Linked DNA regions of Homo sapiens: region 2 is linked to region 1. Evidence: fine-mapped expression QTL. Tissue or cell type: blood mononuclear cells. Region 1 holds a variant in brackets; the other region holds the start of a gene. All regions are shown on one strand. Distances are between the middles of the regions. Region 1 overlaps SMU1 (SMU1 DNA replication regulator and spliceosomal factor). Region 2 holds the start of SMU1 (SMU1 DNA replication regulator and spliceosomal factor).

What was found.
Region 2: SMU1 starts here. The variant in region 1 is fine-mapped to the expression of SMU1 in blood mononuclear cells (TOPMed, PIP above 0.99).

The regions. Positions count from the first base shown.
Region 1 is chr9:33,053,943-33,056,858 of GRCh38, forward strand. SMU1 (SMU1 DNA replication regulator and spliceosomal factor) reads right to left here. Exons shown (of 12, transcript NM_018225.3): 8 at 2,895-2,916; 9 at 2,171-2,297. Among named protein-coding and RNA genes, the nearest start is that of SMU1, 21 kb to the right of the region's middle. The variant G/A (reference allele first, on the strand shown) is at 1,531.
Region 2 is chr9:33,075,423-33,078,338 of GRCh38, forward strand. SMU1 (SMU1 DNA replication regulator and spliceosomal factor) reads right to left here and starts at 1,252. Exons shown (of 12, transcript NM_018225.3): 1 at 1,161-1,252. The coding sequence starts at 1,186. RefSeq lists enhancers at 1,114-1,263, 1,434-1,633.

The sequences.
Region 1 (2,916 bases):
CTGCTACTGTCATAAACAACCAGAAAGCTACCCTTGTCTGGATATCAAAACCAAACAGGGGGTCGGCCATGGTGGCTCACGCCTGTAATGTCAGCACTTTGGGAAGCCAAGGCGGGTGGATCACTTGAGGCCAGGAGTTCAAGACCAGCCTGGGCAATATAGTGCGATCTTGTCTCTATGTAAAATAATTAAAATAAAATACAAACAAACAAAACAAAAACCGCTTTTCTTTTCTTTTTTTTTTTTTTTAAAGAGATGAGATCTCGCTATTTTGCCCTATTGCCTCTGCTGGCGTTAAACTCCTGAGTTCAAGCGATCCTCTCACTTCAGCCTTCTGAGTACGGGACTACAGGCAGGTGCCAATAAGCCTGGCTCAAATAGAGGCTTTTTAGCTTGAGACTCTATCCTGAGATTTTGATGTGGTAGGTCTAGGGTGAGGCATAGGCATTTTTTAAAAAGCTACAAATGATTCCAATGTACAGTTTATACTGACAATGACTGAACAGAAGTCACAATGTTAGCACACACACATGAGGAACTTTGAAGTGGAAGCTACTCTTGGCCACTTGCATTACTTTTCCCGGTCTATCTTTTCACCTTATCCTTCTGGGTTCTATGAACTGAAAGGGTTAAATCAGGTAGCACAGAAATCTGAGATGTGCTTAGAGAAGGGATGGATCAAACATTAAATAGCATTGTCCTGATACCACTCAATTCATCAGGTACAAAGTCTCTAAGGCATGGACTCTGCTGTGTTTCCTCTGTGCCTTCCATGGAGCTTAGCAGAAAGCAGATGTTGAATAAATACCCATAAACAGGAGAAAACAGTTGCCCTGGTGTCAACACTGTTATTGCCTGCCCTAATCTCCTCTGAAGCCCAGTTGCTTAGAAGAAAAAATGAACATTTCAGGAATTAAGAACGCTAAGGCTTCCAGTGTTTTCCATTCAAAAGGTCAGTGACACGCTTTGCCCCACTCACTGCAGAACTAAGGGGGAAAGACCACAAAATAAGGAACCTTAGATAAGCCATCTTCCAGTGGCATTTACAAGTTGTGAGGCCCATATGCATAGCATGAGAGCAAATCCCATGACTGAAGTACTAACAGCTCTGTGTGATTTCCCCATACATCCCAAGGGAGCATACATCTCCTGCCTTCGGGTTTCCAGTTCGATTTCCAATCATGAACAGCAATTTCAGACGGTGGTCTGACATATATACATATATATATATACATACATTTATTGATTGACTGAGACAGGTTCTTGCTCTGTTGCCCAGGCTGAAGTACAGTGGTGAGAAAATTGCTCAATGCAGCCTCAAACTCCTGGGTTCGAGTGATCCTTTCACCTCAGCCTCCCAAGTAGCTAGGAATACAGGTATACGCCACCACCCCTGGCTGTCTGAATTTTAGATACTTAAATATGTATCTAAAATATCTAGATATTTGTATTAAAATGTTTTATTAAAATGTCTAGATCTTCTGCCACAAAGTACTCACTCATATAAGACAATTCAAAAAGATTAGGTCC[G/A]GAATGTAAATAGTGTCTCAAAGATCTCTAATAATTTTCTATTTGGGTTTCTCATATCTTTTCTAGGAAATGAGAACCTCTCTTCAAATAACTAAATCTTTAAAGGTACTGAAGATCCATTACTTTCAGCAAATTACTTATTAAATAACTATCTAGGAGAAGGCTTAGTTTTACTCAACACCTCTCCTATTCCTCTATAAATGCTACTAGGAAGGCCCTAAATCTGGGGACCAGGAGTGCAGTGAGGCTGTGCAACAAAAAAGAGATCTATTTATTAGGCCACTGAGACTTTCGTGAATTTGACTGTTAGCAGGTGGACCATACCTATGGCAAAACAGATTTAACCACCATGTGTATCTGTGAATGGGGGATGGCTTAAGTTTAGGACTCTTCACCCTTCCTCTTTTCCTACACATGATAAAGTTTGTTTGGATTGAAAAGGTTTGAGATTGGGGTCCCAAGGCCAATGGGAATTACCCACAGAATACTGTTGTTGTCTCAGACTCACCTCAATTACAGCTAAAATAGCCAGGAAAGAGGTTTACTACAGCACAATCATTCCCATTATCACCACTGAAAACTCCTCAAAGGACAAAGATGGGGTAGACATCCCAAAATAAACTGATAGCAAATACTTAACCTTTACAGTGCCATCAGAGGATGCACTAATAATGTAATGTCCATCTTGTGTAAATGTTGCTTCGTTAACAAAGGAGGAATGGCCACGAAATTCCTTCAGGGTTTTCCCAGATTTTAAACCATGAATTCTACCAAATGAAAGTAAATGAAAAGAACAATAAATATTTAATATCTTATGGTTGTGACCAACGATTGAATGCATTTTAGATAAATTACAGAAGCTCATGTTATAATATTAAGTGAAGAGGGCTATGTGATTGTGTATACGGTGTAATTTTCACTATATCAAACAATCAAACAAAAGCTTTGCAAAGAAAGAGGCTGGAAGAAAATATGCCAGTAATACCACAAGCTTCTGTTCAGGGACAGACCTCTAAAAAACAAGTTAGCAGGAGATTGAGATCAGTGGGTCTCAGCTGGGTCCTTTAGAGTATAACAGACCCTCTAAAGTGATTATGATGCAGGTAGGTCCATAAGACCATACTCTGAGAAACATGAAGCACTGCTACCCCCTTTCAAATGTCTCTTCTGGGTAAAAACTCAAATGACACAACAACAAGTGTCAGTTGTACTTTGGGGACATAAGGTCTCACATACCTTCCCTCTCCATATCACATCATCATGGTAAAAGCATCATGGTAAAAGCGTAAGGAATCACTAGTACCTCCCTCCATGGCCTCATTATATCAAACTCAAGTGAGAGCAGTTTTGGGATTTTTACTTACCTAATTGTCTGGTCAAAAGAAG
Region 2 (2,916 bases), 21 kb after region 1:
TCTCTCATGGCCCCTTTATGAGGTATGCAGGTATCCAGACTTAGACCCCTGTTATTCTGCTATGATACTATCTTCCTTAGCACATGTCCGTTGACTTCCATTTTACACTCCCAAAATAAGTCATCTCTCTCCTCAAACAGCTCACATTTGACATAGCCAAAATCAAATTCCCTACCTTCAAACAGAAATGAATACATAAAGAGCTAGAAGCTTTGAAGATAGTCTGGGATTTGAATCAAAGTTATGTGACCTTGGACAAGTAGGTTAACATCATTTCAGTATTTGCTGAATGCATAAACCTCCCTTCCTCCTATGAAAAGTCTCCAAAAAAGGTCCTCTCCCTCCCTTACACTCAGACACAATTTTTATGTCTGTTAATTTAATTATTATTAAGTGTTGGCAAGGACAGGTGGAGGATGGAGTTCTGGAAAAGCACACTAAGGTCTTCTTTAGTCACTAATTCTCATCCCCTATTCCTTGAAAATTTTTCTTTCTAGCCCAGTCTCCAGTCTGTCTCTCCCCAGACAACCCAAAATTCCGTGCCAGATCGGGCCTGATAGTTGTTCATTCATTCCAAAAGCTAGTTGTTCATTCATTCCAAAAGCAATTAACTCTTCCTCTAAGGTATGCTAGACACTGAGACCACAAGGAAAAGGAGCTCCTAGGCACCGACAAAGGCTAGTTTGGGGTGAGGTTATCAAACAGTGACAATACTGAGTGATAAACGCTAGGCAGAGAAAAGCAAAGGGGCCGTATAAGCAGAGACAACGAATCACATTGCATAAGCTGGACAGGGAGAGAAGCAAGGCTTAAAGAGACCTATCCCCTTGCGCAGATAATTAGACTGGAGTCCAGAGTGGATCCTTAATTTGGTCAATCACAGCGCGCCAGCAGTCGGCCAAGGACAGAACTTAGGTCTGCAAGGTGTGTTTTCCCCACCCGTGCCACCTCCCTCGAGGTTTTGGGCTTCACGTCTGAGAGCTGCTACTTTCCTGTGGGCCCACCTCCGAGGTAGCGAGATCCAAGATGCTTCTTTGGGGGCAAGGAAATGGCCCTCCACTCCCTGGCCTCTCGGATGCCTTCTCCCGAGTACCCTCCGCCCCACACCCTTAACCTCCAGGCCCCCGGCAAGGCGCGAACATCCCCACCGCAGGACTCACTCCGAAGATTCGATTTCGATCGACATAGCCGTATCTCTCCGGGAGCAGGCCCCAGCTCTCCCTCAAGGCCAGTCGCGCAACACACCAACGACACCTCCGGCGGACACCTAACGTCACTTCCGCTTGGGTCGGCGTCTGGCTCCCGCTCTGGAGATAGAGTGAACGAAGAGTAGGGGCGAGGTTCGCGTAGGGGCGGAGCCCTCAGGGGCTGTCAGAGGGCGGAGTTTATGCCCCTGCCCCAGAGAAATACGCATCAGGAGGAAGACTGTTTAAAAGCAGGCCGGAGCCGGGTGCGGTGGCTCACGCTTGTAATCCCAACACTTTGGAAGGCCGAGGCGGGCGATCACCTGAGGTCGTGAGTTCGAGACCAGCCTGACCAACATGGAGAAACCCCCGTCTCTACTAAAAATACAAAATTAGCCGGGCGTAGTGGCGCATGCCTGTAATCCCTACTCGGGAGCCTGAGGCAGGAGAATCGCTTGAACCCAGGAGGCGGAGGTTGCGGTGAGCCGAGATCGCGCCATTGCACCCCAGCATGGAAAACAAGAGCGCAACTCCGTCTCAAAAAAAAAAAAAAAAAAAAAAGAAAGATAGAAAAGAAAAAGAAAAAAAGCACCGGGCGCCATACAGCTCACAAATGTACTGAAAAAGAAAAGCGCTGGGGCGGAGCGCGGTGGCTCGCGCCTGTACTCCCAGCGCGCGAGTTCGAGACCAGCCTGGGCAACATGGTGAAGCCCCGTCTCTACTAAAAATACAAAAAATTAGCCGGGCGTGGTGGCGGGGGCGCCTGTAATCTCAGCTACTCGGGAGTCTGTGGCAGGAGAATCGTTTCACCTCTGGAGGTGGATGCGGTGAGCCGAGATCACACCATTGCACTCCAGCCTGGGCAAGGAGAGCAAAATTCCGTCTCAAAAGAAGAAAAGAAAAGTAGTGGTGATAAGATTGTAGTAAGAAAAGCAAAGAAAAGAAAGAAGAAAAGAAAGAAAAGAAAAGAAAGAAAAGAAAGAGCACTGGTTTGGAAAGATTGCTTTTTTTTTGAGACGGAATCTCGCACTGTCGCCCGGGCTGAAGAGCACAATGGCGCGATCTCGGCTCACTGCAAACTCTGCCTCCCGGGTTCAGGAGATTCTCTTGCCTCAGCCTCCGGAGTAGCTGGGATTACAGGTTTCTTGCCATCACGCCAGGCTAATTTTTTGTATTTTTAGTAGAGATGGGATTTCACTATGTTGGTCAGGCTGTTCTCGAACTCCTGACCTCGTGATCCGCCCGCCTCGGTCTCCCAAAGTGCTGGGATTACAGGCGTGAGTCACTGCGCCCAGCCAATGTTGCTTTCGTTTGATGTAATTAGTTGATTAGATTTAAGATGAGGCTGAATATGCAATACCTGATGGGATATTAATACATTCAAAACCAACATAACACTAGCCAAAATTTATAGGAAGAGTTAATTGAGGATTTTGGTTGGTTGGTTGGTTTTGCGTTTTTTTGAATCAAGGACTCGCTTTGTTGCCCATGCTGGAGTGCAGTGTCTCGATCGTGGCACACTGCAGCCTCGACCCCTCCAGCTCAAGCAATCCTCCCACCTCAGCCACCCAAAGTGCTGGGATTACTGGCATGAGCCACCACGCCCTGTCACGGGACTTTAGGTCAAACACATTATTACATTTGTAGTGACAAATGAAATGTAGAGATATCAGTGAACTTCATACATAAAACCTATTTTTAAATATTTTATTGCTGTTGTATATAAATTGTA